5 separate regions of the Homo sapiens genome follow, and regions 1, 3, 4 and 5 are each reported to be linked to region 2. Evidence: microRNA targets listed by miRTarBase, many of them from high-throughput screens and not tested one by one. Region 2 holds a microRNA gene; each other region holds the end of a gene's coding sequence. Distances are from middle to middle.
Evidence for each region. The annotated mature microRNA hsa-miR-5688 reads UAACAAACACCUGUAAAACAGC and lies in region 2 at 1,446-1,467, opposite strand. An mRNA with a match to its seed (bases 2 to 7 or 8) in the 3' UTR can be bound and repressed. Matches are read on the target gene's strand: a 7mer-m8 pairs with bases 2 to 8, a 7mer-A1 pairs with bases 2 to 7 and ends in A, and an 8mer does both.

Region 1 (4,151 bases), not on the chromosome of region 2:
GTAGTCTCAATTCTTACCACTTCCTGCCTCGCCTATGATACACCAGCAACACCAGATTGCTTGTAATTCTTGACAAACACATAACACAGCTTGTTCTACCTCTGGTGTTTGTTCACAGTACCCACTCTGTCAGGAACTGCCATAACCCTCATTCTTATCCTTAATCAAATTGCAATTCAGTCACTACTTTCTCTAGGTAGCCTCTTCTAATTTATCCAGACTACTTTAGGTAACCCCGAGTTTCTATAAACTCATGTTCATGTCAATTACTGCACTAATTATATAACGGTGTATGCTCTGGTGTTTCTCCTACCAACTACACTGTGAAGTCCTTCAGGGAGGCAAATGTGTCTTACTTATCTCTGTATCCCCAGTACTTAGCACAGCGTTTGCCACGTTAGGTACTCAATAAATATTTGTTGAAGAAAGGATTCAATGGCATTTTTATCAACATTATTAACAACTCTTCAGCCTAGTTTACTCTGAAGGTAAACTAGGGTTATATAATTTTAGATACAGTTGTAAATACAAACACATATAGTTGTTTTACTTCTCATTTATTGTTGTTTTGACCTCAGAGAGTCAAAGATGTAAATGGAGATGTATATTAAGTATGAAGAAATAGGGATACCTCTGAGAAATATCAACCAACATATGATATGCAAAAAAAAAAAAGGGGGAAATTGTGTGGTGAGAAGGTCCATCAACCCAAAAATAATGGCCATAAAGTGCCAGATAATCTAGTTCCAGATGCAAACCTAAATATAAATTCTGCCTGCATTTGGTGAAAATGACATGCATTAGGTTGTAAGAATATGAACCAAATATCAATTATCTGCTTGAAGAAGTTGAACGTGTTTATTATATTAATAAATTCAACCTTTACTATTATAGAATGTTATAATAATTTCTAAAGTGAATATTGCTTGAATTTTAAAATATTGATAATTATATATATTAAACCTTGAAGTGATTTCAGAGATAATCTGGTACAATATTTTATAGACGAAAGACACCAAGGCCCAGGGAAACTAAGTGACTTTGTTCAAGATCATACAGGTAGTTAGAATGACCAGGACTGTTTTACTGCTAAATTCAGTTTTCCTTCTGGTACATACTGCCTGGGAGGGAATTTCATTAATTTTCTTCTAAAACATATTCATGAGATTTGCATCCAATCTCAATAATAATATCATATTAGAAGAAAATTACTTCAGTGAAAATAAATTTTTATTCAATTTCATAAACTATGCTAAAATTATGGGAAATTTACTTAGAAATGCCAACATCATTTCTGGGGGGAAAATTACTGATCATTAAAATATTTTAATTTGCATACTACATTAGTTAACGAGGACTGACTTTTGCTCTTCTCAGTCATTATTGTGTCACCATTCAGAAACCTAATGAGCCAATTTATAATCTCTACAATTAACAGTAATAAAACTTACAAGTAATTAACTATTTCACTACAATTACTATCATTTTTAACTATCTTACTCAATGGAATAAGGTCATTGCCTTTGTAGCATTTTCTAATTATTTTTTAATATTTTATTTTACTGTTATTTTTTCAAGGCTAGTCAAGTCAAGCAGTGGGAGTAAAGAAACACCACTGCACTTGTGCCAGCCTCGTTTTTAAAAAAGCTTTATATTAAAAACCGATTTTTAAAATCTTGATAATCGAAGAATATTTTCAAAAAACTAGCAGCAAAGGCAAAACAAATCCCTAAAAACCTACTGGCTCTGTATTTTTTCTCCCAGTAACTGACTGACCTATTTAAACAAAAGCATTTCCTTTTGAGAGGCCCAAATGACTAAATTAGGTTATGGAAGGGTTGAAAGCGTGAGAGCTCTCATGGCTGCAATGCAGAGGGCTGTGGATACAGCTTCCCTAGAATTTAAGCATGGGTAAGCATATGTTAAGAGGAGTTATAAGGCTCCCTGAGTCTTACTGAGGGTATCCACATTGGGTGCCAGGTGAAACAAGAATCAGTAAACCTTTCTAGCCTGTGAGGTTAAGTATACTTAGCTGATTTCACTATCATGAATTCACCTGCAGCCGTATCTATAGGTTATCAATTTGAAAATTTCTAAGCGCACCATAGTGAGGTATTTGCAATCTTTGGTGCTGTGCCATGACATTGGTTGATGTTCGATGCTTCTACAACATAAGCATTTACTTTAGTGGACATAAGGGCTACCTAAGTATTAAGCAAAGTAACACTGATCAATGTGAAAATAGAAATTTAAAAAACGTATCTACTAATATGTGTTTGAAAATGCTTACCCATATAAAATTTCCATTATTATACAAAGGCTTTCATGATGCAACTCCCTGGCTCTTAAATTTTAAAAAGTACAGAATAAAATTCTCAATTCTTTTTTTGACACTTTTTACTCTTGAGTTTGCCACTAAAGTAAAAGAGAGAAACATCCCAAACTGGTCATTTATGAAAACGTTAAGTTCAGTGTGAAACTTGCTTTAAAACTACAAATTATGTCAGACAAAATAAATATATATGCTCACATTTATAAAATTTTCCACAGTACTCATAGAAACAAGCTTCATAAAATTTATACTGAATACAATAAAAATCAGTTCTAATAAAGATTTAGCTATCTTCCTAAATAAAAATTTCTGTGTTTGAGGTATCACTGTAAGACATGCCAATATGGCACATTTGTAAAACAACCCAGGAGTCTATTCTAAAAATCACAACCAACTCAGCATCATCTCTGCAGACTTACTAACAGGCTGAACTAATCTCTTTATACAAGAAGTATTTTAATTATTACAAAAACAAAGGAGGCAGGTACTAGAAATTCTGCATTTCATAGAAGAGTAAAACTTTGTTAGAGATATTTTCATGATCATCTACCTGCAGACACCATTCATTTAAAAAGTCCTAGTCAAGACCATTAAGCAGCTGCATCTTCTACAACATTGAAAAAAAATCCCTAGAGATTTAAAAAACTGAAGAATTTCACTATCTTTAAAAGATATTATATTTTAGTACATAAAGCTATTAAATTTCTCTGTGTCAAGAGCAAAACATTACCCCTTACCTTGCTTCATCATTGGAAGGTGGACACCTGATCCAGCAATACTCATTAACTGCTAGGTAGATGACCCATGTTGATGGCAGTAAAGCCATTTTACAATGAACTTATGAAGTAGTAACACTAGCCAAACACACAGAGACACAAATACCAAAAATGATGTGTTTAGTATACACAAATAGCTATACTTGGGGCATGGCTATCAAGTAACAAGACTGATTTAATACTTTACAGTTACAGCACATTAAAAATATATTGCCAGAGGGATAATGGTCCCAAATACGAAAAATGTCTATATGGAAAAGGCTGTGATTTATTGCAAAGCATAATATATAGCAAATTCCAAGGAAGGGCAAACACGTTTTAAAAACAAATTTTTAAATTTAACGGCTTAAGCCAAAGTCTCAGTTACTTTCTGGAGAATTCAGAACTATTAGGTGTAGAAGAATGCTTTTCCTTTTTTCTCTTCTTTTTTTCCTTTTTGTGATGTTTCCCTTTTTTTGATTTACTCTTTTTTTCTTTTTTCTTTTCTTTCTTCTGATATTTTTGTTTCTTTTGTTTTGAAGTGTCCTCTTCAGTGGAACTGGATGAGTAAGACCTATGGATAATAATACATACTGACTGAGAATTGCATTTATGACTGATAGATAAATTTAAGTGGGATTTGAACTGCCTTAAATTCTTCTTGGAGTAAGGTAGGGAGTATAAACATAAACTTAAAAAATGCTTCATATATTTGCATTCCCTTAAAACGATGAATTTAGAATTTTTGCTGCTTGGTCACAGAAACCAACAAAACTAGTATCTATTCCACTCAATACTAATGTAATGAGTTTTAAAGTCAATAAGGATGAAATTATTTTTCTGTGATTTTTGGTTTTTCATGCAGTCATATCATTCAAAATCCTAAAAGGCAAACAAAGGGGCATTCACCAAGCCTTATTATATTCACTTGTGTATACAATAACTTCGCATATTTTCTTAAAAGTGTCTCAAAAGTTGCAATTCTCTATTTTAAAGGGCTATAATTGTACGTTCATATGAATGAATGAAAGCTGAAAGTTAGCAAAATAAAAGCACTTTTGGTA
Region 2 (4,000 bases):
GGGAAAAATTACTTTTCCAAACACCTACACTAAATATAGTGTAATGGGCATGGTCTGTAGCCTGACCAGCTTTCCATCCCTTTTTGCTACTTTCAACAAAACTTTAATTTGTGTACCTTTTCCCCCAGCGGCTCCATGAGACAAATTCTCTCCTAACTCCCAGAGTATTCCTTACTCAGAGAGATTGCTTTAGGAACCCAGACTGAGCCAGGAGGCTTAGCCTGCCTGTGGAACTGCTATTGTTTATATGGTGGGGTAAAGTTAGGGACAAGTAAATAAAGATACAACATACTGAAGGGAATGATTTTTATTCCACCTATGAGAATATTCCACATATGAGAAATGCCTGCCTTTCATACTGGATGCAAATGGGGAAACATGTTGTCCTGGGCTTTTCTGTGTTTTCTGGCAAATATGAAGATTTTCTCCCTCAAGTGTGTGCTCAATTCCTCCCTTCTCATTCTCACACTTTAGTAGTAATCCTTAACATGCAAAAGGTAGTATTCACGGTGTTTTCACTTACATTGTCTCTTTTAATTATCCTTCCAACCCTGGTAAGTATTTCAGTCTCTAGTCAACAAATACAAAAACTAACCCACAACAAGGTTTAAGTACTCTGCCCACAACACGCACACTGTCAGTGAGAAGCACAGCCCAGGTTTGAAATTCTGTTTTTATATTCTAGCTGGAGCAAGCATCCCACATGGACAAGGATGAACCAAGAATTTGGGTCTTCAGACAACCTGCTAGTTTAGGAATGGTCACTCAGAGGTCTCACCCTACTGCCTTAATTGTGAATTTCTTAGCTTGCTCAGTTGCCCTATCTAGTTGTTCTCCCCACCCAATTCCCATTCTCCAGTTTCAGGATGGGACCTGCTCTCCTTAATACTTTATACTTTCTTGTATTCTCTTTGCTAAGGTTGGACCACGTTCCCTACAATCTCTACCTATTTATAAATGGTTTATCAACTAAGTGCATATCTCTCAAAGTAACCACCACCAAAAATGACTTTCAAAATAATTAGCTACCTTGAATTTATACACAGGTATGAAATCACTCCTGAAACCTCCAGAGGCCTGTGGTCTCTGCTTACTGCAGCCTAGTGAGTACGATGGCAAGGATGCAAATAAAGTAGTATGTAGTTAGGGGAAAGCCGAGATTCCTTCAAACATAGCTTCTCACTTTGTTCTGCATGATTGTTCATATGGTACTTTGTTCTATATTTATTTGTTTTAAATATAATTGTTAATGCAAATTAGAATGTCTTCATTTATTCTTAAAACATGATATGAATGTAACATGCAAAATGAATATGTGTACTATGCTCAGTAGAAACTTTTTCAGAATAACATCCAATTTTATGTCAAAGCGAGAATGTTCAATTTATACAATCTTAAGGCATCTAGTTTCCAAAAAAAAAAAAAAAGAGAGAGAGAAACACTTTGCTGTTTTACAGGTGTTTGTTATGTTTCTATGTCCAAAACATAATAAACTCCTGTAAAAAGGCAAAGTGTTTCTCAAAGGGTATTTTCGGTTGAAAAAAAAAATCAATGTTGAACATAATTAAAAAAGAATATATTCTCTCTCCACTGAAAAAAAATAGGGATCACTCAAATAAATTGCTCTTAACAACATGAACCTGCCAAAACTCAATTCTTTCCTGTGCTATTATTTATTTGATAGATTTTACTACATCATAGCCCAACCTCATAAAACAAGGATGAATAAGTTATTTACCAAAACATATCCATGATTAAGTTTTATTTACTTGCAAAAGGCCATAGGACATGCATTTCTAAACATTAACAAATGAGCCATGTCTATGATTCTCTCCCCTACTATCAGTTAATCTATACATTTTCCCTCCCTGCTCACTCTCCTCCCAAACAACATATATTTTTTTCTGTTTTGAAAAATTCAGCATATCATTGTTTCTTTTCTTAACTGGTTAAGGGTTGCAAATGTAAATGAATAAAAAATAAACAGTGTGTCGCCTGGGCATGGTGGCTAACGCCTGTAATCCCAGAACTTTGGGAGGCTGAGGCAGGTGGATCACCTGAGGACAGGAGCTTGAGACCAGCCTGGACAACATGGCAAAACCCCATCTATACTAAATATACAAAAATTAGCAGGTGTGCTGGAGCGCACCTGTAGTCCCAGCTACTCAGGAAATTGAGGCAGGAGAATCACTTCAGCCTTGGAGGCGGCAGTGGCAGTGAGCCAAGATCACACCACTACACTCCAGCCTGGGCCACACAGTGAGACTCCATCTCAAGAAAATAAATAAATAAATAAATAATAAAGTAAACAAAGCTTTATTGGAGGATATAGGAAAACATTTATATATTTATATGCAATTGGGTATATAATCTTTCTTTTTTCCTGAAATAAAAGGTCAATAAATTCCAGTAATTTGAAATTTAAAGCTTTTGTTTATAAAGGTTTATCAAAGGTTGCAGTATAAAAAGAAAAGCCACATACCCATGGAAAATTATATAATTGTTATATATATATACACACACAAGTATACACTCACACACACACACACACACACATTTTTTTTGACAAAATATTACACAGAGAATAATAAGCTTCTGACCAATAAGAAAAGGAGGGCGGGCGCGGTGGCTGACGCCTGTAAACACAGCAGTTTGGGAGGCTGAGGCGGGCGGATCACCTGAAGTCAGGACTTTCAGAGGAGCCTGGCCAACATGGTGAAACCTCGTCTCTACTAAGAATACAAAAAAATTAGCCGGGCGTGGTGGCGGGTGTCTGTAATCCCAGCTACTTAGAAGGCTGAAGCGGGAGAATAGCTTGAACCCCGCAGGTGGAGGTTGCAGCAAGACGGTACCATTGCACTCCACCGTGGGCAACAAGAACAAAACTCCATCTTAAAAAAATAAAACAAAAAATAGAAGAAAAAAAAGAAAAATTTAACACCCAATGGTGAAAAATGCACACATGCATTTCAGCAGTGCATTCTATAAGATATATGGATACTCTCTACATAATCAGCAAAAAATATATAACAATGGGATGTCGTTTTTCTTTCTTCAGACAGGTACAGATTTAAAAGATACCATAACAAGAATATGCAAGAATGTAGAAGTAGAATATGCAACATTGGTGGAAGTGTAAACTGGTATTATTTCCTTGAAACCAATTTGAATTTTTCTGGCAAATTTGAATATTTGCAAATTATTTAATCCAGCAGTTTCATTCCTGGAAATTACTGCACATGTACAACATGATCATGAGATATTTATTAGTCTTTTCAGAGAAACACAGTTTTTAAAAGAAAAATACTTAGAAATAACTCAATTATTCATCAAAGAAGAAATGATAAATAGTGGTAAGTTATATTCATTAAACAAAATACTATATAGTGGTGGAAATCAACAAAGGAATGGAACTTTTTTGAAAACAAAATATCAAAGGAGGAACAGTGAGTATTGAAGAATGTATACAATATGAAATCATTTATATAAAATTTAAAATCATAAAAAGTTTAAATATATTGTATAAATAATGAAAAGAAAATAAATGATATAAAAATGTTCAAACGACTGGTTAACCTTGGGAGGAATGAGAATTCCAATGGAGAGAAAAATGAGGATAATTGAATGAAATGGTTAGTGGTCAGTTATTTAACTGGATGGTGGTAAATGTTTATATGTATATATATATGTATATATATATATATATATATACATATATATATATGGTTTTATGTATAAAGTATTATATTAACTTTTTTCCACAATCTTGTGTATGAAATGCTTAAAATATGACTGATATATTTCTAATTTTCTGATTTATCTAATTCAATTTATCTAATGAAATTATCTAATTTCATATTTTTGAAATTGTCTAATTTTAGCACTGTTAAAAGAAAACTTCAGACAAATTAACAGAGTTTAATTGAGCAAGACAAACAAAAAACAAACAAGAAAAACAATTCACGAATCAGGCAGTCTCCAGAGTCACAGCAGATTCAGA
Region 3 (4,151 bases), not on the chromosome of region 2:
TTAAACACATGGTCTTGTCTCTCTGATTTTTTTTTCCTTTTTCATCCAAGTAATTTTGTGAAGGGGAAAACATCCTCCAATAACAGCATTTCCCGGGGACTCTCCTCCTGGCATGCCCACTAACCGCACCTGCACCCGGCTCTCTGACTGATGCCGGCTCCACCAGCGGTCCGGTCTGGTCCGGTCCGGTCCAGTGCAGGGGGTCTAACGGTGTGTTTATTTTCTCCTCCTGCTCTGTCTCTACCCAGAGTCTGAAGGAAGGCCTGACGGTGCAAGAACGGTTGAAGCTCTTTGAATCCAGGGACTTGAAGAAAGACTAGGTGTGTCCCATCCAAGTTGAGCACGCGCCTTCCCCAGCTTGCAGCAGCACACCCCAAGCGCTGCTTTTCACCTGTACCTTTGTTTTATTATTATTATTATTATTGCTGTTGTTGTCATCGTTAACTGTGGGCATGGAATGCGTGAGGCTGGCTTCTGGGTTGTCCACACCACTCTCTGCTGTGTTGACTTCCTGTTGTCTTCATCAAAGCTTTTTTCCGTGGTATTCTAAAATTAGGCCAGCAGTGGGGGCTGGGAGGGCATCTGTGTTAGTCCTTTCCTGGCTGTGACCCGCCACACTCACTGTCAGTATTAAGGCCCAGCAGCCTGTTGATAAGCTACCCTGTCTCACCATGTGCTGGTGTGGAAACGGGGCCCAGCCAGCACGCCTCAAGGTAGATGGAATCCCCACTGGTCAGAGAAAAAGCTATGCGGACACTCCAGCTTGGCCTGGGTCACAGCACTGACTCCTCACCCGCTAGTCTGGCTGTTAAGAGGAGAAAGTGCACTGCCTTCCAGCCCAGGAGGAGGACAGCATTTTGTATTTGTTCCACTGATGCAGCTTAGAACCACACCCCTGAGAGTCGTGGCAAACCTTTCACAACCTGGAAAATGTTGAAAGCAACCATTCCTATTTTTGTTTGTTTTTTATTAAATCTTGCACAAAATCCCCGGCCCCTCTCCTTCCTTCCTTCCTTCCTTCCTCCGCTCGTTCCTTTCTTGGTCTCCAGTAACCCTGGTCTTTTCATAACTGCTCGAGATTGTTGACCTGCAGCCCAGGTTTCAGACTCTGATTGCAAAAAACAAATGAATTCCCCCCAGGAATCATTCAAAATGGGGGAAGGTTTGGGGGTTTGGGTTTTTTTTTTACCTTTTGGAAAAGAAACCGTCACATTGCTTTGGAAAAGGTTGAGAGGAGACCCCTGTTAAGTCAAGAAGAAAGTACAGAGGATGTCAGAATCTGATGAGAACAGCACATTAGTGTTTATTGAGACTCCGATCTTAACTCTCATTTAATTAATCTGAGCTCTGAAAACCTATCTTGCAGCATTTATCTTTAAAAGAGCCTGGTTAAAGTAAACCTATACTAACAATTTTGCTTTTTCTAACAGTTTGAGGAAGACCTTTTTAACCACCACAAAACATTCTATGGCAATTCTTGAAAATCTCTTAAATTGGAGTCTATTATGGCCCCATGAAAACCATTAATCCCATTAAGATAGGGAGTATAAACCCCTGGCTGGTGGAACAGGTTCTGCTACTTTAGGAGCAAGGTGGGGTGTGAGTAGATGGTTTTCATGCCAAGAACATGCTTTCACTTTGTATTCATGCTTGTGTTGGTGTGATGGTCTCTGTGGGTGGGTGGATGCTTTGGGCGTTGAAATCTAGAAATCCTGTTGCTCAGTTTCTAGATGAAGTCATGAGCAAGGCCATCAGTGGAGCTCTGGCCCCGCCCCCAATGTGCAGAAGGGCCGGGAGCAAGGCCTGGAGTTTTCATGTGTTTTCAGACCCAGGTTTAGGTGCTCTCTTCTCACTGAAATAACTAAGTGCTCTCCACTGGCATCGAGCCCTTTCCACAAGTTTTTAAGGCTCTTAACCCACACTTTCACTCCTCTGCTACTAGTCTTCAGTGTTGTTAACAGCAAGAGAAAATTGGGTTTGTTTAAAAATCTACTTCTCTGAGGTGGCACAGTTGCGTAGCTGTAGTCCCAGCTACTCAGGAGGCTGAGGTAGTAGGATTGCTTGAGCCCGGGAGGTCGAGGCTGCAATCAGTCATGATCGTGTCACTGCACTCCAGCCTGGGTGACAAAGCAAGGCCCCATATCAGATATAGATATACTTATCAGACCCCCCCTGACCATTTAGATTGGCAGTGCTTTGAGAAATGCACTATGACCTTTCTGTGTCAATGGGAATATACAGAAGGAACATTCGGGACCCCGCTGTCCCCCACAGCCTCATTGTTGTCTCCAGGACACTGCTGGGTCACACGAATGCTCCAGGACAGACAGGGACCTGGAGTGCATCAGGATCTGACCAGATAGGAGTTTTTGCCTCGTGTCTGGGTGCTACGATTTTGTGCCGTTCTCTGAGGTCCACCACCTGCCCTTCCTGGCATGGTTTCCTTCGTGACCATCCCTGCTGCCCCTGGGGGTGGACCCCACTGGCCCTTCTGCAGACAGCTCCCTGCCTTCTGCCCTCCAGGGGGTTCTGGCCAGAGTCCATGCTTGGAGACAGGATCATCTGCCTTCAGCCCTCACAGTGCTTTAAATTAAAGCAAGTTTGCCCATAGGACAAAAGAGCATTTGATTCCCTTTTTTCTGTCACATATCCCTTGAGGCTGGACTTCAGGAATCCTGGAAAATTAATATGAGTGCAGCATGTGAGGGGTCAGAGACAGGCCAGCAGGGCGTCTGCATTCCTCCCTGCCACAGGTCTCTCCCCAGAGGCTGGTTTAGTGTAGGGTATTGCCAGGAAACGGACTGAGGCTGCTTTGCTAAGAGCTCCTGAAAATGCCCTGGGCCTGTCCTGGCGTTTCTGAAGAGCCCTCATACAGGGACAGCCACCATCTGGGTCAAGGAAGTCTGGGTTCCCTGCTGGTGGGCTCCATCCTGCGATGGAGTGAACCAGGCGAGAAAGGATGACGATGTTCTTCATGTTGCACCTGGACATGCCCCAGGAACAGAGACTTGCCCAGGTGGCAACACTGGCACAGATGTTGACGGCTGCCCAACTGGTGCCACACTGAGCAGGGAGCCTTGTGCTGCACAGGGCTGGGCCCTCTCTCCAGTTTCCTTCCTGCAGGCATCCAAATACCCTGGAAGGGATTTAACCCCTGAATTCCAGAGGGAAGAAAGAAGAACAGTGAAGAAGTAGAACTGGTTTCTGTATGGGGAGAGGAAAGTCTTAGGGACAGCTGCAGGCGGGGTCTCAGGCTGCTCCTTGGCACCAGCTACACAGTAGTGAGCTTTCCCAGCTTTACCGATGAGGAAGAAGTTCAAATAGATAGACTTCAGCATTTTAATTATTTTCCTATAAATGTATTTATGTGTAGTATGCTAGCACCAGCCAGTAAGCTGTGCCACACATATGAATGGGAAAGCGAGGCAGTTGTGCTCGTGTGAGTTTCTGCAGGCTTGTGGGTAATTACCTTGTGTGCACGCCTGCACGTGCAGAATAGTCACTTTCTGCTGGTCAGTTTCTTTATCCACCCATGGTGCCCCAGCCCCAGGCAGGTGTGGAGACCAGCATTTCAGAGGACGCGCTGTCCACAGCCTCCCGGGTCTGAGTGGATCATTGGGCAGGGGTGGAGACAGTGCGCTGCCCTCTGAGCTGGAAGCCTGTGCTTCAGGGAGTCATAATGGGCCTGTGCTAAGTGGGTGATGCAGTGGACATCCCAGGGCGACTAGAGGTGGCAGTATCGCGAATTTGCAGGTTTATTGAACAAGAGGTAACATCGGAGAGGATCTTGCCTTCGGATTCAGCAAGTATGAAGGCAGAAGAGCATGGAGAGCAAGGCCCCACAGCCTGCTTAGTGAGTTGGAAGGCCCAGCAAGAACCTGTTTCTGCAGCAGCCACCAGCTCCCATCACCCCTTGACCCTCCAGCTCATGCTGGAGAAGAGGGAATTTTGGCTGTTTAAAGAACACAGTTGTGAATCTCAGAATGTGCCTGAAAGGAATACTGACAGATAAGGCCGGAAACAAAACTGATGGCTTGAAAAACATTTTTATGGAATGTATTTACTATCATTTTGTTTTACTATAGAGGTAGATGGGACTCTTAACTTTTGGGTACATGGAAACATGCTGAAAACTGAACACAATCCTGATC
Region 4 (4,134 bases), 21 Mb from region 2:
GCCAGCCCCTGCTTTAGACCATGGTGAGTATGTTGGGCTTCACATCAGTTCAGAAGGCCTGTTTACTGTGTGTATAAGAACGTTTTCCCAAAAAGCCAGTGCAGGCCCTGAAAGCATTAACCAAGCAGGCAGGCTAACATGATGCATCTCCTTGCAGGATGGTACCCGAGTCGTAGGGAAATGCGGTGGTTACTGTGGAAAATGCACTCCATCCTCTGGTACTGGCCTGGAGGTGCGAGTTTTATAGCTAAGGTAAGTAGTCCTATGTCTGTCTGTCTGTGTATTTGTCTTTTATTTTTTTCTGTAGCCTATATGAGCAAATGTGGGAGGATCAGGCAGGGTTACAGTTAAGCATCTTGAAGCTGACCCAATACAGTTCTACCTTTTTATCTCCTGCTCCTCTGTCCTCACGTGACTGAAGCCATCAGTTCTCTGCCATTAGACATGGCTTCCCCTCTACAGAGCTGGCCTATTTATTTATTTGCTTTTAGATTTTAGATTCAGGAGGTACATGTGCAAGTTTGTTACACTGTTATAGTGTGTTGAGATGTAGGCTTCGTTTGAACCCATCACCCAAATAGTGAAAGTAGTATCCAATAAATAGTTTTCCCTTCCCTTCCTCCTCCCTTTTGGAGTTACCAGTGTCCATTATTTCAGTCTTTATGTCCATGTGTACCCAGTATTCCACTCCCACTTATAAGCAAGAGCATATGGTATTTGATTTTTTGTTTCTGTGTTAATTCACTTAGGAAAATTGCCTCCAGCTGCATCCATATTGCTGCAAAGGACATGATTTCATTATTTTTTATGGCTGCATAGTATTTCATCATGTATACAGACCACATTTTTAAAATCCAGTCCACCATTAATCGGTACCTAGGTTGATTCCACGTTTGCTATTGTGAATAGTGCTGCAATAAACATGTGAGTGCAGGTGTCTTTTTGGTTGAATGATTTATTTTCTTTTTGATATATACCCAGTAATGGATTGCTGGGTCAAATGGTAGTTATATTTTTAGTTCTTTAAGAACTCTCCAAACTGCTTTTCACAAAGGATGAACTAATTTACAGTCCCACCAACAGTGTATTCCATTTTTCTCTGCAGTCTCACCAATATCTGTTATCTTTTTACTTTTTAAGAATCGCCATTCTGATTGGCATGAGATGTTATCTCAGTGTGGTTTTGACTTGCATTTCTGTGATGATAAGTGATGTTCAGCATTTTTTCTTATATTTGTTGGCTGCTTGTGTGTCTTCTTTTGAGAAGTGTCTGTCCATGTCCTTTGCCCACTTTTTAATAGGGTTATTTGTTTTTTTCTTGTTGATTTGCTTAAGTTCCTTATAGATTCTGGATATTATTCCTTTATCAAATGTATAGGTTAAAAATGTTTTCTCCTATTCTGTAGATTGTCCATTTATTCTGTTGATAGTTTCTTTTGATGTGCAGAAGCTCTTTAATTTAGTTAGGTCTCCATTATCAATTTTCATTTTGTTGCATTTGCTTTTGAGGACTTAGTCATAATTTGTTTGCCTAGGCCAATGTTCAGAAGAGTATTTCCTGGGTTTTCTTCTAGAATTTTTATGTTTTGAAGTCTTACATTTAAGTCTTTAATGTATCCTGAGTTATTTTTTGTATATGGTAAGAGGTAAGAGTTCAATTTCATTCTTCTGTATATGGTTAGCCAGTTTTTCCAGCACCATTTATTATAGGGTGTGCTTTCCCCATTGTTTATTTTTGTTGATTGTGTTGAAGTCCAGTTGGTTATAGATGTATAGCTTTATTTCTGGGTTCCTTATTCTGTTCCATTAATTTTTGTGTCTATTTTAGTACCAGTACCATGCTGTTTTGGTTACCTTTAGTTTGCTGCCTTGGAGTAGAGTTTGAAGTCCGGTAATATGATACCTCTGGCTTCGTTCTTTTTGCTTAGGATTGCTTTCGCTTTTAGGCTCTGCTTTGGTTCCATATCAATTTTAGAATAGTTCTTCTTCTAACACTGTAAAGAATAACATTGGTAATTTGATGGGAATTTTGTTGAATCTGTGTATTTCTTTGGGCAGTATGGACATTTTAATGCTATTGATTCTTCCAATAGATGAGCATGGAACGTTTTTCTATTTGTGTCATCTATGATTTCCTTAAGCAATGTTTATAATTCTCCTTGTAGAGCTCTTTTACCTGCTTGATTAGATGTATTCCTAGGTATTTTATTCTTTTTGTGGTGACTGTAAATTGGATTGCATTCTTGATTTGGTTCTCAGCTTGAATGTTATTTGTGTATAGAAATGCTTCTGATTTTTGTACATTTATTTTGCACCCTGAAAATTTACTGAAGTCATTTTTCAGGTCTAGGAATCTTTTGGTGGAATATTTAGGGTTTTCTTTGTATAGAATCATATTGTCAGTGAAGGAAGATAATTTGACTTCCTCTTTTCCTCTTTTGATGTCTTTTCTTTCTTTCTCTTGCCTGATTGCTCTGGCTAAGATTTCCAATACTATGTTGAATAGGAGTGGTGAGAGTACACATTCTTGTCTTGTTCCCATTCTTAGGAGGAATGCTTCCAACTTTTGCCTGTTAAGTATGATATTGGCTGTGGGTTTGTTAGAGATGGCTTTTATTTTGAGGTATGTTCTTTTGATGTCTTATGCCTTGTAGGTTTTTATCATGAAGGGATGTTGGATTTTATCTAATGCTTTTTCTGCATCTATTGATATGGTCATATTGTTTTTGTTTTTAATTGTTTGTGTGGTGAATCACATTTATTGACTTGCATATGTTGAATGATCCTTGCCTGCCAAGAATAAAGTCCACTCGATCATGGTAGATTATCTTTTTGGTATGTTGCTGGATTCAGTTTGCTAGTATTTTGTTGAGGATTTTCATGTCAATGTTCATCAGGGATATTAGTCTGTAGTTTTCTTTTTTTCTTGTGTTTTTGCCAGGTATTGGTATCAGGATGATAGAGGTTTCATAGAATGAGTTAGGAAGGAATATCTCTTCTTCGATTTTGAAAAAATTGTTTCAATAGGATTGGTACCAGCTCTTTGCAGAGCTTATTTAAAAGGCTGTTTATTGGGCTGCATCTCTAGGGGTCCTGCTTCATTAGGTCTCTGGTGGATTCAGGGATCTGTAACTTTAATACAGAGAATTCTAATGCAAGTGAATCACAGCTCATCCTTTGAGAAATACATCCCAAGAATGTAATAGTAAAACTACAGTGGCATTTGTTGAGCAATATTTCATTGAATCCTCACAACAAAACTGTGTGGAGGAGCTGCTATTTTACATATGAGGAAGCTGAGGCCCACAACAATTAAGTAACTTGCTTAAGATCATGATGAGGCTGGGCACGGTGGCTCATGCCTGTAATTCCAGCATTTTGGGAAGCTGTGGCAGGCAGATCACTTGAGGTCAGGAGTTTGAGACCAGTCTGGCCAACATGGTGAAACCCCATCTCTACTATAAATTCAAAATTTAGCTGGGTGTGTTGGCACATGCCTGTAGTCCTAGCTACTTGGGAGCCTGAGGCAGGAGAATCGCTTTAACCTGGGAGACAGAGGTTGCAGTCAGCCAAGACCACGCCCCGCCACTGCACTCCAGCCTGGGTGAGAGAGTAAGCCTCTGTCTCAAAAAAAAAAAAAAAAAAAAAAAAAATGAAAAGGTAATGATAAATTCCCTCGGCAGAACTCAGAGTGTCCTACACTAAAGCCAGTGCTCTTAATCACTCCACTGTGCCACACCCCTGTTACTCATGGTGTGGTCCAAGAATCAGCTCGATCAGCTTTACCTAGGAACTTGTTAGAAATGCACAATGTCAGGCCTCACCCTATACCTGTGAAATCAGAATCTGCATTTTAACAAAGTCCACAGGAGTCATGCATGTTAAAGTTCGGCAATCCCTGACCTGAGTACATTATGCCAGAAGGTGATTCTTCTGCTGAGTAAAAGACGGAACTGGTCAGTCTTTTTATCATCCCCATGTCTTCAGCTGCAAGGAATGAGCTCAACCAATTCATGTGACCCACCTGCATCTTCCCTCAAGCTTCCAGTAGCCCATTACCGTGTAAGGCTCTTGAAGATCCTGATACAAGAGTGCCTATTTGACATTTAGGATTATTTCTGTTACAAGGAGCTA
Region 5 (4,149 bases), not on the chromosome of region 2:
GGGGGAGTCCTCATCATCATCGCCTCCTGCGTCATCAACTTAGGCGGTGAGTGGGGGCTTGGGACAGGCAGGGGAGGAATGGAAGGGTTGGCAAGGGCAGCTTTACTAACCCCTGCCCCTGCTCTCTCCTGTCTGTCCTCCTTACCTCTCCTTTGTCTCTCCTTGTCTCCCCCTCCCCCCGTCTGTCCTTCCCTCTCCTCTCCCACAGTGTATAAGTGAGGGGCTCTGCCCCGCATCCCAAGACTTTTCTTCCTGTTGGGAGCTGCCTTGGGCCCATCCCTCCCCTGGGGGGAGCCCAACTGATGGCCCTGGCCCCCACCCCTAAGGACCAAGGGAGCCTGAGCGGCCTTGTTTACAGCTTCTGTCCTGCTCCTGCATCTTGCCAGGCTCCTCTGCCAACTGTAGGCCTGCCTCATCCCTGCACTGGTTCCAACCTCCCTGCACTAATGCCTGCATCCCCTCCGGCCTCTTGGCCCCCTATCCCTGCACTTCTGGAAACCTCCCTGCACTCTGGAAACCTCCCTGAACACCTCCCCAACTCTGCGCTCTCAGCCTCCCTGCATCTCTCCTGGCCTCCCTGCACTTCTTCCAGCCCCCCAAATTCTCTGGACCTCCACCCTGGCCGCCTCCTCCCAACTTTCATTGTCTTGGCATCTCTCAACCCTCAGTCCTCTCTTCCTTCCCTTCTTTATCATCTCCCCTTTCCTCTCCACGTCCCGCCCCCTTCCTCTTCCTGCCTCCTCATCTCCCTTAAGCATCCTCTTCTCCAACCTCCCGTCACCGTTTACTCTGCAAAATTGACAGCACTTAGACGAGGCTTGGGGGCAGGGAGCAGTGTTGGGAGAGGGCTCCCCAACCCCAGGCTCGGACTGTTCTCTGCTGGGACCACCCAGGGTCGGACACCCAAGGGTGCCTGGCAGGTCGCAGAGTTGGCAAGCCGGGCCTCGTATGGGGACTCGGGTGAGGGTGGCGAGTACTGGTTCCGAACGCACGCAGGGGAGAAGGGAGGGACGCGGCGCTGACCCTTCCAGGTCAGCTGGAGTTGACCCGCCCACCTGGGCTTTTCAACCCCAGTCCGCGAGTTTCTTTCTTGAAGGTGTGGGGGCTAGATTCATTCACGTGCTTCGTAATGAAATAATCCAAAAAATAGGACCAAAGCGCCCACTGGCAGGAGCGAGGGCGGGGCGCCGCGCTCTATAATTATTTTCTAAGATGATGGGGGAGGTTTGTTGCACGCGACAGCCCGCTGAGGAGGCGGGGACCGAGCTACAACGCGGTTCGGATTTGGCGGGGGTTTTTTTCCTTAAAAAAAAAAAAAAAAAAAAAAAAAAAGTCTGGGGGAAGAAAAAAACTAAAATTCTTAAAAAAAAAAAAAAAAGGCTATTATCAAACTGATTTCTCCCTTTTTGTATGCCGGATGCTGCATGAGTCTGAAACACCAATAAACGGAGACTGCATGAGACTCGCCTCCAATCTCGGTTGGTTCCTGCGTTCGTCCCGCCGGCCCGGCGGTGCTGCCTTTCTGGCAGAACCTTACTGGGTGGTATACGCATGCGACTTCCCGGTGGCCATCTTTACTGTGGGCTGAAGCCTGTGCGCTTACTCGCGCATGTGCAAGCCTTCCCTCGCTTTCCTCTTCCAAGTAGCCTTGCCTAGAGCGGAGCCTCCCGCGCCATTTCTGTGCGCCTGCGTAGCGTGACCCTGCGCAGCCTGGGAGGCGGGTCTTAGCTCCAGGTGCGTACGGCATCTGACTTGACGTGGCCCACAACTGAAAGGTCTGGGGAGAAGGCGCCGTGTCCGGGTGTGGAGAGGGGCGTCGTGGAAGCGAGAAGAGTGGCCCGTCCCTCTCCTCCCCCTTTCCCTCTTTCGGAAAGTGGTTTCTGCGGGGCCCGGGAGCCTCGGAGTACCGAACCTCGATCTCCGGGGCGGGGTCCTTGGTGGGGACTGAGCGCCCCCTCCCGGGGACGGGCGGTCTGGCCGCGGAGTCCCCTGCGGGAGCGTGATTGGCTGGAAACGGTCCCGAACCCCCAGGGGAGCCCGATCCCTGGGGGACCCTGGCTTCGGACTCCAGTATCTGTCGTCGCAGGGTCCCTGCCCTAGTGGCCTATGTCCCTTGCTCGGGGCCATGGAGACACTGCGGCCAGTACGGCGGCGCCTCTGTCTGAAGAAGGGGAAGTGACCTCCGGCCTCCAGGCTCTGGCCGTGGAGGATACCGGAGGCCCCTCTGCCTCGGCCGGTAAGGCCGAGGACGAGGGGGAAGGAGGCCGAGAGGAGACCGAGCGTGAGGGGTCCGGGGGCGAGGAGGCGCAGGGAGAAGTCCCCAGCGCTGGGGGAGAAGAGCCTGCCGAGGAGGACTCCGAGGACTGGTGCGTGCCCTGCAGCGACGAGGAGGTGGAGCTGCCTGCGGATGGGCAGCCCTGGATGCCCCCGCCCTCCGAAATCCAGCGGCTCTATGAACTGCTGGCTGCCCACGGTACTCTGGAGCTGCAAGCCGAGATCCTGCCCCGCCGGCCTCCCACGCCGGAGGCCCAGAGCGAAGAGGAGAGATCCGATGAGGAGCCGGAGGCCAAAGAAGAGGAAGAGGAAAAGTAAAGGCACACCCTTACACCTTGTCCCGGGGCTGCTCCCCTGATGGCGGGAGGAAATAGGGAGGGGAAAATGTGGGACGCTGGAACCTTTGAAAGTGGAGGGAGGGAAGCCAGCGGGGGAGGAGGAACGGGCAGGGGAGAAGCACACGTGTGGGTGGGAGGGAGGACCGCCCTCACCCTTAACTATGTTCACCTGTCCCAGACCACACATGCCCACGGAATTTGATTTTGATGATGAGCCAGTGACACCAAAGGACTCCCTGATTGACCGGAGACGCACCCCAGGTACAAACGAAGAGGAAACAGTTGGGGGAGGTGAAGGGCCTCGGCTCAGTTACCCAAGATCGGCTCCCCTAGAGGCCTTTGCTTGCTGCCTCAGCTCCCACACAACTTACAGCTGCAGGAGAGAGTATTCACCCAGTAGCACCATCTTTATGACTTAGATTACTACCTTGTCTTCCTTTTTTTTTTTTTTTTTTTTTTGAGATGGAGTCTTGCCCTTGTCCCCCAGGCTGGAGTGCAATGGCACGATCTCAACTCACTGCAACCTCCGCCTCCTGGGTTCAAGCAATTCTCCTGCCTCAGCCTCCCAAGTAGCTGGGATTACAGACGCATGCCACCACTCTGGGCCAATTTTTGTATTTTTAGTAGAGACAGGCTTTCACCATGTTGGCCAGGCTGGTCTTGAATTCCTGACCTTGTGATCCGCCCACCTCAGCCTCCCAAAGTGCTAGGATTGCAGGCATGAGCCAATGCGCCTGGCCCCTTGTCTTCCTTTAAGAGACAATTATAATACAAAAAATTAGCCGGGCATAGTGGCGGGCACCTGTAGTCCCAGCTACTCAGGAGGCTGAGGCAGGAGAATCGCTTGAGCCTGGGAGGTGGAGGTTGCAGTGACCTGAGATCACACCACTGCACTCCAGCCTGGGCGAGAGAGTGAGACTCCGTCTCAAAAAACACAATTACAGATAATTCTTTTTTTAAAAAAACAACTAGTCATTGATTCTGGAAAATTACAGATAATTCTATCATGTTTCCCATTCCCAGAAGTCCAAGTCCTGGCCTTTCAATATTATCTAGATCTGCATCCCTCTACTACCATGTACATTCTTTAATCACACCGCTGGCCCCATTTCCCACCCCACATGCCTTCCTAGAATTTACCCTCAGAGTCATGCCTTTCCTTTTTTCTTTTTTTTGAGGGGTGGAGAGACAGAGTCTTGCTGTGTTGCCCAGACTGGTTGGTCTCGAACTCTTGAGCTCAAGTGATCCATCCGCCTCGGTTCTCAAAGTGCTGAGATTACAGGCATGAGTCACTGCACCCAGCCTAGAGCCATTCTTGATTTCTCTCTCTTTTACCTGAACATTCACACCAGCAGCAAGTCTTGGTAGCTATAAGATGTACATTTCCAAGTACCTCTGCTAGTCTCCACTTTCAATACCACATCCCCATCCAAGCCACTGTCTTTCTTGCCTGGATAGTTGTAGTAGCTCCTAACTGGGCTCTCTGCTTCCAGCTTCTGCAATTCAGATGAACCTTTTAAAACATAAATCATATCAC

Region 1: miRTarBase lists SREK1IP1 as a target of hsa-miR-5688. The part of its 3' UTR that is shown has no 7-base or 8-base seed match.
Region 3: the mRNA of MPRIP is a reported target of hsa-miR-5688. Seed matches in the 3' UTR shown: 7mer-m8 at 958-964 and 7mer-m8 at 1,976-1,982.
Region 4: miRTarBase lists ADAMTS9 as a target of hsa-miR-5688. The part of its 3' UTR that is shown has no 7-base or 8-base seed match.
Region 5: the mRNA of PRRT2 is a reported target of hsa-miR-5688. Seed matches in the 3' UTR shown: 7mer-m8 at 1,225-1,231.

The regions. Positions count from the first base shown.
Region 1 is chr5:64,720,913-64,725,063 of GRCh38, forward strand. It overlaps SREK1IP1 (SREK1 interacting protein 1), which reads right to left. Exons shown (of 5, transcript NM_173829.4): 5 at 1-3,661. The coding sequence ends at 3,472. Among named protein-coding and RNA genes, the nearest start is that of SHISAL2B, 32 kb to the left of the region's middle.
Region 2 is chr3:85,383,228-85,387,227 of GRCh38, reverse strand. It overlaps MIR5688 (microRNA 5688), which reads right to left and starts at 1,518; the gene lies at 1,436-1,518. The region is part of intron 1 of CADM2 (cell adhesion molecule 2); the gene reads right to left.
Region 3 is chr17:17,184,575-17,188,725 of GRCh38, forward strand. MPRIP (myosin phosphatase Rho interacting protein) reads left to right here. Exons shown (of 24, transcript NM_001364716.4): 24 at 249-4,151. The coding sequence ends at 320. Among named protein-coding and RNA genes, the nearest start is that of PLD6, 20 kb to the right of the region's middle. RefSeq lists enhancers at 227-727, 1,515-1,714, 1,745-1,814.
Region 4 is chr3:64,518,284-64,522,417 of GRCh38, reverse strand. It overlaps ADAMTS9 (ADAM metallopeptidase with thrombospondin type 1 motif 9), which reads left to right. Exons shown (of 40, transcript NM_182920.2): 39 at 158-252. The coding sequence ends at 247. Among named protein-coding and RNA genes, the nearest start is that of ADAMTS9-AS1, 41 kb to the left of the region's middle.
Region 5 is chr16:29,814,420-29,818,568 of GRCh38, forward strand. PRRT2 (proline rich transmembrane protein 2) reads left to right here. Exons shown (of 4, transcript NM_145239.3): 3 at 1-46; 4 at 209-1,462. The coding sequence ends at 219. It overlaps PAGR1 (PAXIP1 associated glutamate rich protein 1), which reads left to right and starts at 1,733. Exons shown (of 3, transcript NM_024516.4): 1 at 1,733-2,588; 2 at 2,791-2,873. The coding sequence starts at 2,107. The region is part of intron 2 of MVP-DT (MVP divergent transcript); the gene reads right to left. RefSeq lists enhancers at 443-1,072, 965-1,184, 1,435-1,684 and a silencer at 1,875-2,044.